3 linked regions of the Homo sapiens genome follow. Changing the gene in region 1 together with any one later gene gives a genetic interaction. Each region holds a gene or a part of one and is shown on either strand. Other genes may lie near its edges. The genes, in order: GTF2E1, CACTIN and RBM22.

Region 1 (3,650 bases):
CTATTAGTCTGGGGCATGGCATGTATGGGGCAGGGAAGGAGAATACAATAGTAGGAAATAATCCTGGAAACAGGTTATGTTGACATTTTTCTGCTGTTCTTTGTTGAATGTTTCTGAAGCCATATGTTGTGTTCTGACAACTGTTGAGGATGTAAAACAACAAAAAATGAAAACGGGGTTCAAGTACAATGTATAGACCAAACCGAAAAGGAGAGAAAAGTGTGTCCAGTAGTATGCTGTGGTACTACTTTGGTGTCGAGCCCAGGTACTTCCCAGGCATCCTTAAGCCCTGGGGTAGCAGGAAGGCTCTAAGTTCACAGATTTGGATCTAGGTGCTACTTTGTTATATCTTACAATATGTAGTCATACCTGAGTATTTATAACCTAAAGTACGTATTTTCTTTTGACTGACTTTTACTTTTCCTTTATTACAGGAAGGGCCTTATATTTTCCCCCCAAAATATATGCATAGATTGGTTATAGATTGGTGTATAGAGTTTCCTTATAGTATGGTACTGTGGATATAAAAATATTTCTTATAAAAAGAGTATTAAATCTGTTGGGTTGATAACCACTGATTTCAAATAAAAGGGTTAGTTGAAACTAGTATTAATAACAGAATATGATTCTCCATTGAAATAGTTCAATGGGATGTCTCTCTTAAAAATTATCCTGTGGAGCCTGGCTAAGATGGTGAAACCCTGTCTCTACTAAAAATTCAAAAATTAGACAGGCGTGGTGGTGCATGCCTATAGTCCCAGCAACTCAGGAGGCTGAGGCAGGAGGATTGCTTGAACCTGTGAGGCAGAAGTTGCAGTGAGCCGAGCTTGCGCCACTGCACTCCAGCCTAGGTGACAGATCGAGACCCTGTCTCCAAAAAAAAAAAAAATTATCCTGTGGGCTGGGTGTGGTGGCTCACATCTGTAATCCCAGCACTTTAGGAAGCCCCCAAGGTAGGTGGATCCCTTGAGCCCAGAAGTTCGAGACCAGCCTGGGCAAAATGGTGAAACCCTGTCACTACAAAAAACACAAAAATTAGTCAGTCATGGTGGTGTCCACCCGTAGTCTCAGCTACTGGGGAGTTTGAGGTGGGAAGATTGCTTGAGCCCAGGAGGTTGAGACTGCACTGAGCCAAGTCACACCACCGAACTCTAGTCTGGACAACAGAGCAAGACACTCTCTCTATGAAAAGAAAAACAAATTCCCTGTGGCCTAGGGAAATTTAACTTGATTTAATCTGTGTGGATAGTCTAGCCATTTTTAGTTTGGAACATGTTAAGTTGATATGGAAGCTGTCCTTCCTAAGCACTTTAATTATATTCTTATTAATCACAACAACTCCACTGAGGTAGTTGATACTATCCTTACTTCTTAGCGAGTAAAAGGTGGCTTGAAATTGTTTAAGGGATTTGCTCAGGATTACACAGTTACCAAAACACAGGCTGTGTACTCTGAATTTCAAAGCCCAGTTTTGTGTTGTTTTGTTTTTTTGTTTTGTTTTTTTTTGAGACTGAGTTTCGCTCTTGTTGCCCAGGCTGGAGTGCAATGGTGTAATCTTGGCTCACAGCAACCTCCACCTCCCGAAGCCCAGGTTTTTATTTTATTTTATTTTATTTTTTATTTTTATTATTTTTATTTTATTATTATTATACTTTAAGTTTTAGGGTACATGTGCACAATGTGCAGGTTAGTTACATATGTATACATGTGCCATGTTGGTGTGCTGCACCCATTAACTCGTAATTTAACATTAGGTATATCTCCTAATGCTATCCCTCCCCGCTCCCTCCTCCCCACAATAGGCCCCAGTGTGTGATGTTCGCCTTCCTGTGTCCATGTGTTCTCATTGTTCAATTCCCACCTATGAGTGAGATATATGCGGTGTTTGGTTTTTTGTTCTTGCGATAGTTTACTGAGAATGATGGTTTCCAATTTCATCCATGTCCCTACAAAGGACATGAACTCATCCTTTTTTATGGCTGCATAGTATTCCATGGTGTATATGTGCCACATTTTTTAATCCAGTCTATCCTTGTTGGACATTTGGGTTGGTTCCCAGTCTTTGCTATTGTGAGTAGTCCCGCAGTAAACATACGTGTGCATGTGTCTCTATAACAGCATGATTTATAGTCCTTTGGGTATATACCCAGTAATGGGATGGCTGGGTCAAATGGTATTTCTAGTTCTAGATCCCTGAGGAATCGCCACACTGACTTCCACAAGGGTTGAACTAGTTTATAGTCCCAACAACAGTGTAAAAGTCTGTTCCTATTTCTCCACATCCTCTCCAGCACCTGTTGTTTCCTGACTTTTTAATGATTGCCATTCTAACTGGTGTGAGATGGTATCTCATTGTGGTTTTGATTTGCATTTCTCTGATGGCCAGTGATGGTGAGCATTTTTTCATGTGTTTTTTGGCTGCATAAATGTCTTCTTTTGAGAAGTGTCTGTTCATGTCCTTCGCCCACTTTTTGATGGGGTTGTTTGTTTTTTTCTTGTAAATTTGTTTGAGTTCGTTATAGATTCTGGTTATTAGCCCTTTGTCAGATGAAAAGGTTGCAAAAATTTTCTCCCATTCTGTAGGTTGCCTGTTCACTCTGATGGTAGTTTCTTTTGCTGTGCAGAAGCTCTTTAGTTTAATTAGATCCCATTTGTCAATTTTGGCTTTTGTTGCCATTGCTTTTGGTGTTTTAGACATGAAGTCCTTGCCCATGCCTATGTCCTGAATGGTAATGCCTAGGTTTTCTTCTAGGGTTTTTATGGTTTTAGGTCTAACATTTAAGTCTTTAACCCGTCTTGAATTAATTTTTGTAAAAGGTGTAAGGAAGGGATCCAGTTTCAGCTTTCTCCATGTGGCTAGCCAGTTTTCCCAGCACCATTTATTAAATAGGGAATCCTTTCCCCATTGCTTGTTTTTCTCAGGTTTGTCAAAGATCAGATAGTTGTAGATATGCAGCGTTATTTCTGAGGGCTCTGTTGTGTTCCATTGGTCTATATCTCTGTTTTGGTACCAGTACCATGCTGTTTTGGTTACTGTAGCCTTGTAGTATAGTTTGAAGTCAGGTAGCGTGATGCCTCCAGCTTTGTCCTTTTGGCTTAGGATTGACTTGGCAGTGTGGGCTCTTTTTTGGTTCCATATGAACTTTAAAGTAGTTTTTTCCAATTCTGTGAAGAAAGTCATTGGTAGCTTCATGGGGATGGCATTGAATCTATAAATTACCTTGGGCAGTATGGCCATTTTCACGATATTGATTCTTCCTACCCATGAGCATGGAATGTTCTTCCATTTGTTTGTATCCTCTTTAAGTTCATTGAGCAGTGGTTTGTAGTTGTCCTTGAAGAGGTCCTTCACATCCCTTGTAAGTTGGATTCCTAGGTATTTTATTCTCTTTGAAGCAATTGTGAATGGGAGTTCACTCATGATTTGGCTCTCTTTTTGTCTGTTATTGGTGTATAAGAATGCTTGTGATTTTTGTACATTGATTTTGTGTCCTGAGACTTTTTGCTGAAGTTGCTTATCAGTTTAAGGAGATTTTGGGCTGAGACAATGGGGTTTTCTAGATATACAATCATGTCATCTGCAAACAGAGACAATTTGACTTCCTCTTTTCCTAATTGAATACCCTTTATTTCCTTCTCCTGCCTGATTG
Region 2 (3,473 bases), on another chromosome or scaffold:
GGCCAGGATGGTCTCAATCTCTTGACCTCATGATCCTCCCACCTCAGCCTCCCAAAGTGCTGGGATTACAGAAGTGAGCCACTGTGCCCAGCCACTTCTGAAAATTTTTTGTAGAGATGGGGTCTCACTGTGTTGCCCAGGCTAGTCTTGAACTCCTGGCCTCAAGCAATCCTCCTGCCTCACCTCCAGAAGGGCTAGGATTAAAGGCATGAGTGACTGCATGCTTTTTCTTTTTAATTTTTACAAAATTAAAGTTTTTTTATTATTTCTGTAGGTTATTGGGGAACAGGTGGTGTTTGGTTACATGAATAAGTTTTTTTGTTTTTTGAGACGGTGTCTTGCTCTCTTGCCAGGCTGGAGTGCAGTGGTGTGTTCTCAGGTCACTGCAACCTCTGCCTCCTGGGTTCAAGCAATTCCCCTGCCTCAGCCTCCCAAGTAGCTGGGATTACAGGCACCTACCACCACACCTGGCTAATTTTTTGTATTTTAGTAGAGACAGGGTTTCACGATGTTGGCCAAGATGGTCTTGATCTCCTGACCTCGTGATCCACCCACCTCAGCCTCCAAAAGTGCTGGGATTACAGGCGTGAGCCATCGTGCCCGGCCGTTTACATGAATAAGTTCTTTAGTGGTGACTTGTGAGATTTTGGTGCACCTAGCTTTTTCTAGGAAGTTCTAACCCTACAGGAGGTTGTGCAGTAGAAAACGGGTGTCATCCCAGCTCAGCTTCATTAGCCTCCCACCCTGTGTAGGGCCTGGCCTTTCCCCCACGCAGCCCCAGGGCCCTTGGCCTGCACCCCCAGCCTCTAGCAGCTGCTGGGACCCCCTAAACCCCCGGGCCCCCTTGTGGGCATTCGGGAGGCATCCAGACATGCAGCAGCATGTCCAGACCCGGCTTTCTATAGACGCTGACCTGGCGGCACCTGGCCTGGCTTCCTGGGAGCCTCGCGGCTGGGCTCTTCTGCTTGGGTTTCAGTGTTCGTGGTAGCCCCGCCTGTCTGGGCACGGCCGCGCTGTGCTTGGCTGGGGCTGCCACGGATTCCAGTGCCACTTAGCGCCCAGCAAAGGGGCTGCAGCTCTGGGTGCCGATTCCAGGGTCCCAGGTGATTGGCTGGAGGGGACTCGGGTCCGTCTAGACTCTATCCAGTCCCCTGTGGTGTAGGTGTGGGCCTCTTGACCCTCTGTCCGCCAGCGGGGACTGGAGAAGGCAGGTCTCGAGCAGGGTGCCTGCACTGGTCACCCCCGCCCAGTGTGTCACCAGCAGCTATGCACCAAGCTCCCTGTGGGCCCAGCATGGCACAGGGAACAGCAGCAGCCAGCCCCATTGCCCGCCTCGGGAAGCTGCCATCGCTGGATGGTCAGGGAGGGCTTCCTGGCGGAAGGGATGTTCTCACTGAGCATGGAGGATGCGAGGAATTCAGGAAGCGAATGGGACAGAGAAGGATGGGTAGCTGGCAGGAAGCACAGTGCGTGCAAAGGCCCAGAGGTGGCAGGGGTTCGGCATGGGCAGCAAGGGGCAGGGTTGCGAGGTGAGGCCAGACCCAGCGGGGTGGGTGGAAGTGGCCTGAGAGCAGCACTGAGGCCGCCGGGATGCCACGTGGTGTGGGGCAGAGCACGCGGAGTCAGGCTAGGCTCCAGCCTCCCAGCACCCCACTCCCGCCCTCAGCAGCCTCCCCGTCTATCGAGGAGGGACTTGAGCCTCGGGCCCCTGGGCCAGTGGTAGATGCCAGACAGACTCCATGTAGGATGGGGGGCGGCGGTGGGGAGCTGTTTGTCCTGGGGCGGGCCCAGGACTTCCCCAGGGGCCAGCAGGGTGGCCTTCTTTGCTAGGCTTCACAGAGGGAAACTAAGGCCCAGAAAGGGCAGGCCACTTGCCCACAGTCACACAGCCCAGGCTGGCAGAGAAGATCTGAATTCCAGAGAGCCTGGCTACCGAGCACACCCCCCAACCCCCTCATGGACTGCCCAAGGCCAGGGCAGAGTTGGGCCAGGTTGGTGGGCCGGGCCCACAACTAGGGTTCCCAGACCCACATATCAGACTCACCTGGGGAGGGGCATTCTCAGGGCCAGTCCTGGCCTCCCCCACGCTGGGGGCCTGGGCCTCCAGGTCAAGGCCTCAGCAACTGCATCTTAACGTGGCTCCCAACCTCCGCCCACCCCCTCCCCTCCGCTGTGGCCAGGGTGGGGACAACCTGAGACCAGGGAGGTGGCGGGACTGGATGGGACCCCTGTGGGGGAAGAGGAGGGGAGGGGGACCCCCCCATGGCAGGGGAGGAGGCCCTGATGGGGTGGAGGAGCACGTAGGAAATGTGGAACCGCCCCCCCATGCCCCCACCCCGCTGCAGGTGAGCGCCGCGAGGGGGTCAACGCCTCCGTCAGCTCTGATGTGCAGTCGGTGTTCAAGGGGAAGACATACAACCAGCTGCAGGTCATCTTCCAGGGCATCGAGGGCAAAATCCGCGCTGGTGGCCCCAACCTGGACATGGGCTACTGGGAGAGCCTCCTGCAGCAGCTTCGTGCCCACATGGCACGGGCCCGGTGAGCACTAGGTGCGGGTACCAGGGTTGGTGCCGTCCGGGTGGGATGGGTTTCGCCCCCTCCTGAGTCCTGGGTGGGGTGGGTCTCGCCTCCTCCTGGGACCATGTGGGGTGGAGAGGGGCAGGAAAGTGCCGACTGGCCGGGGCCAGCCTGTGAGTGACGAAGGGGGGCCGGGGGGCGCGTAGTCCCGTGCCCTAGCGGGAAGGCCCCAGGATGCTCCAGTGCCCTCACCTGGAGTCAGCCCTGTTGGTCTCACAGGGCTCCCCAGGAGCTTCCGCCCTTTAACGAGTACCTGGCGCGCTCCAGCAGCCATGGCATCACAGGAAGCCCCCAGGCGGCCTGCCTGTCCCCACTGCCTTGCGCCCAGGCCTGCGCCCTCCCAGCGCTGCTGCCTCCCGGCCTCTGGCTGTGTACAGATTTCTGGAGTGTTTTTGGCACCGCTGTGTAAATACATGTCTCCTCTGCTAATTTGTAAATGTCTCTAAATTTATCATGCTTGTTGGCTGGTGTCCTGCTGGGCCCCTTCTCCTGGCCAGCCCCAGCCACAAGACACTGAGACTGCAGCGTGAGACAGAGACCCACCTCTCCCTGCCATGGGATGGTTCACCAGGGTACCTGCGTCCTCTCGTCCTCTCTCCCATAAGCCTTGACCCTGAACTGACCAAGCCTGGGCAAAGGTCCCAGCCAGAGCCGTGGCTGCTCGCCACCTTCTCAGGGTCCTTGCAGCAATAAGGGGCGTGAGAATCTCGGTGGGGGTGGGGCGCGGAGCCCCTTCGCCTCCATGCGGGTGACCCCGGCTCTGCGTCCCAGGCTGCGTGAGCGCCACCAGGACGTGCTGCGGCAGAAGCTGTACAAACTGAAGCAGGAGCAGGGCGTGGAGAGCGAGCCGCTGTTCCCCATCCTCAAGCAGGAGCCCCAGTCCCCCAGCCGCAGGT
Region 3 (3,650 bases), on another chromosome or scaffold:
GCAACTTCGAACTCCTGGGCTCAAGGGATCCTCTTGCCTCTGCCTCCTGGTATACCACCACACCCAGTGCACGTGTGTGTGTGTGTCACTATTTTGCCCAGGCTGGTTTTGAGCTTCTGGCCTCAAGCAGTCCTCCCACCTTGGCCTCCCAGAGCCACTATAGCCAGCCTAATTGTGCTTTAGACTTTTATTTCAATTGTGTTGTTAGAACTGATATATTGCTACTGTTTCAGAGTAACTGCTTTTGGGAGTAATTTTTTTTTTAACCATAGGTGACTGTTTTTCAGAAAGATAATTTTTCAACAAGAGTTTTTACTATTAAAGGAAAGGGAAAAATATATGAGTTTATGTATGTTAAGTTCATTAGAGTTACTCTTCTAGTCAGAGTCCTGGCCACATTTTATGTAATATTATTTATATGTTTGTTAAGGAGGCGTCTGGTCCTGGAGTACAGTGACCCTTAGATGACTGTGACTATCCAGAGGATCTGTAAGACTAACCTAGAAAGAAACCACTTTTACATTTACTTTAAATAAATCATGTTGTAATAAAAACTAGGAGCTAATTTACAGGTTGAATATGACCATGGGCACAGTTTGTTCATCTAAAAATTTTCTTTTATAATTTTTTTGTTTTTTGTTTTTGAGACAGGGTGTCACTCTGTTGCCCAGGCTGGAGTGCAGTGGCATGGTCATGGCTCACTGCAGCCTTAACCTTTCCAAGCTCAGGTGATCCACCTCAGCCTCCTGGGTAGCTAGGACTACAGGTGCATACCACCACACCCAGCTAATTTTTGTATTTTTTGTAGAAATGGGGTTTCACCACGTTGACCAGGCTGGTCTCGAACTCCTGGACTCAAGCTATCTGTCAGCTCCAGCCTTGCAAAGTGCTAGGATTACAGGCATGAGCCACCACACCCAGCCTAAAAGATTTTTTCTAAAGCATTAATTTCATCAAATTTCCTGACAGTTCAGGAATTTGGACAATTTCTTAGCATGCTGTGTAGCAGAAGTAACCTGATGGTGCTAAAGAGTTTGAATAAAAACATAGTAAAGTCTCTGGTACTAAATAGGAAAGAGGAGAAGGGAAAGATGATGTATTCTGTGTGCATGGTTAGTATGGATATGTTTTAAAATACATCTGAGGTCTTTTTCCTCTTTTTTTGTACCAGGCCTGCCCATCCAGGTTCGTGACGCAGGATTGTCTTTTAAAGATGACATGCCAAAGTCAGATGTCAACAAAGAGTACTATACACAGAATATGGAGAGAGAGGTATGCTGCCACTTTTTGGATAAAAATCCTAATGAATTGACACAGTCTGTATAATTTATCTTTTGAATTTGTCATCCCCACTTAGATTTCTAACTCTGATGGAACACGGCCAGTTGGCATGCTGGGGAAAGCCACATCTACCAGTGACATGCTGCTCAAACTGGCCCGGACCACACCCTACTACAAAAGGAATCGACCCCACATTTGCTCCTTCTGGGTGAAAGGAGAGTGTAAGAGAGGAGAGGAATGTCCATACAGGCAAGAGCGAGCCTCATTTTCAGTATTTGCTTTCAGATGATTTCTCATCTAAGAAGTGGGAGGTCCTAACTTAAACTGTTTCTGCTTTAAAATCTAAAGGTCATACAACTAATGTGGTATACCTCATGTCTTAGAACTATGAAATTTAGAAGAGCATGAATAAATTGTAGTTTTTACTTACAATTGAGCCTTGGAAACTAAATTGCTATGCCATACAATATAGATGCTGACCCTAAACATTTCTGCCTGAGAAGTAAATCTTCACTGCCATGGTTTAAATGAGTTGACTCTCAATGTATAGTTGAAGTCAAAGTAAGGTCAGACTTCTAAAGGGTGTGTATGTTTTGGTTAAGACTGCCAAGCATCTGGATTAGGAGTTCTTAATTTGGGATTGGTTAACCCCACCCCCTAAAAAATAATGTATGTGCTTTCTCTGGGGCGAGGTTCATAGCTTTAATCAGATTCTCAGTGGAATACAGCACCCCAAATGTGTTAAGAATCATTGACCTAGAGAGGGGTAATCATGTGTCCCTTTCTGGGGGGCGGGAGGGGGTGGATCATGTCAAGAGTATTTATTTATAAGGAAAGTTTGGCATCCTAGATGGCCTAATGGCTTTTAGGAGGCTAGTAATTCCTTCCGTGATACAGTAAATCTCTTGGTATTAGGTCTATTTTGGTAATTATATTTTGGTAGAAACCATAGTTTCTAGTTCAAAAGGCACTTCAGAATATGTATCTAGGACTTTAATATGTAGCTACTCTTGGAAGATAATCATTTTTTCACCTTCGTTTCACCTTTATGCCTTGTTTTTTTCTTGAATCATAGACATGAGAAGCCTACAGATCCAGATGACCCCCTTGCTGATCAGAATATTAAAGACCGTTATTACGGAATCAATGATCCTGTAGCTGACAAGCTTCTAAAGCGGGCTTCAACAATGCCTCGGCTGGACCCACCAGAGGATAAAACTATCACCACACTATATGTTGGTGGTCTAGGTGATACCATTACTGAGACAGATTTAAGGTTTGTGGGTATAAGTTAGAGAGTTATTTTTGCCTTTAACTGCCCTGGAATAATTTATTTGCAAAAACTGCAAGAATGATCATTCTGTACAAAATACATTTTTCTGTAGTCTCTCTATTGTTAGTATCATGCTGACTGGAATTTTTGTAAAATTGTCCTTTATGGTGCCACAGTAATAATGTGCTTATGTGGCTGGGCACAGTGCCTCATGCCTGTAATCTCAACACTTTGGGAGGATCTCTTGAACCGAGGAGTTTGAGACCAGCCTGAGCAACATAGTGAGACCACATCTCTACTAAGAAATCAAAAAAATTAGCCGGGTGTGGTGGCATGTGCCTGTAGTCCCAGCTGTTTGGGAGGCTGAGGCAGGAGGATTGCTTGAGCTTGGGAGATCAAGGCTGCAGTGAGCTGTGATTGCACCACTGCACTCCAGCCTAAGCAACAGAGTGAGACCCTGTCTCAGAACCAAAGCTCAAAGAGTGCTTATCCATCCTGGCATATGGTAATAATGACATAGGATTCTATTTGACCTAACAGCCAAGTTTTAAAGGATGGCACGCATCCAAGTATGATGAATTATGTAGAGGAGGGAGAGCTTTGCGATGATAAAACTCTTGTGGTTTAAATTGTTGGTTTTTAAAGAGACTGGCATTTGATAAATTTGTGTTATTTTTGGCTTGTATTATGCTTGGCTAGATGAGACTTCTGGGCAGATAGTAATGGAAATTACCTCTTCCAAAGAGATAAAGTGGAGAAGAAACTCCTGTAAGTTTATAACCTGCCCTTGGTAGCCTGTCTCCATTAAACCCTATCTAAGTGAGCTAGACAACCCCCAGGGGTTGGCAGACTTTCGCTGTAAGAGGCTGGATGGTGAATATTTTAGGCATTGTGGGCCACATGCAGTCTCTGTCACGTATTCTTGTTTTAAACTTTCTTGGCTCATGGGCCTTGAGAGCTATGGTTTGCCAACCTCTTATCTAGGGTTTAGGGTCTTTAAAGAACCTATTAGAACCCCCTTTCCTCCATGGGAAAAAACCCTGAGATGTTTGAGAACCTTTATTTACTCATTATTTTTCTTTCCTTCTCTCAATCA

Evidence for each region.
Region 2: changes in GTF2E1 (region 1) and CACTIN together harm fitness less than expected from each alone (positive genetic interaction), as found in Homo sapiens cells (one large-scale study listed by BioGRID).
Region 3: changes in GTF2E1 (region 1) and RBM22 together harm fitness less than expected from each alone (positive genetic interaction), as found in Homo sapiens cells (one large-scale study listed by BioGRID).

The regions. Positions count from the first base shown.
Region 1 is NC_000003.12:120,745,615-120,749,264, forward strand, and holds part of GTF2E1 (general transcription factor IIE subunit 1), read left to right. Parts: intron 1-3,650.
Region 2 is NC_000019.10:3,613,462-3,616,934, reverse strand, and holds part of CACTIN (splicing factor Cactin), read left to right. Parts: exon of another isoform or gene 1-2,339; intron 2,340-2,345; coding exon 2,346-2,538; coding exon of another isoform or gene 2,539-2,542; exon of another isoform or gene 2,543-2,549; intron 2,550-3,004; exon of another isoform or gene 3,005-3,348; coding exon 3,349-3,471; exon of another isoform or gene 3,472-3,473. UniProt on the Homo sapiens protein: Plays a role in pre-mRNA splicing by facilitating excision of a subset of introns. Required for the splicing of CDCA5/Sororin, a regulator of sister chromatid cohesion. Involved in the regulation of innate immune response.
Region 3 is NC_000005.10:150,694,413-150,698,062, reverse strand, and holds part of RBM22 (pre-mRNA-splicing factor RBM22), read left to right. Parts: intron 1-1,171; coding exon 1,172-1,272; intron 1,273-1,357; coding exon 1,358-1,530; intron 1,531-2,356; coding exon 2,357-2,557; intron 2,558-3,650. UniProt on the Homo sapiens protein: Required for pre-mRNA splicing as component of the activated spliceosome. Involved in the first step of pre-mRNA splicing.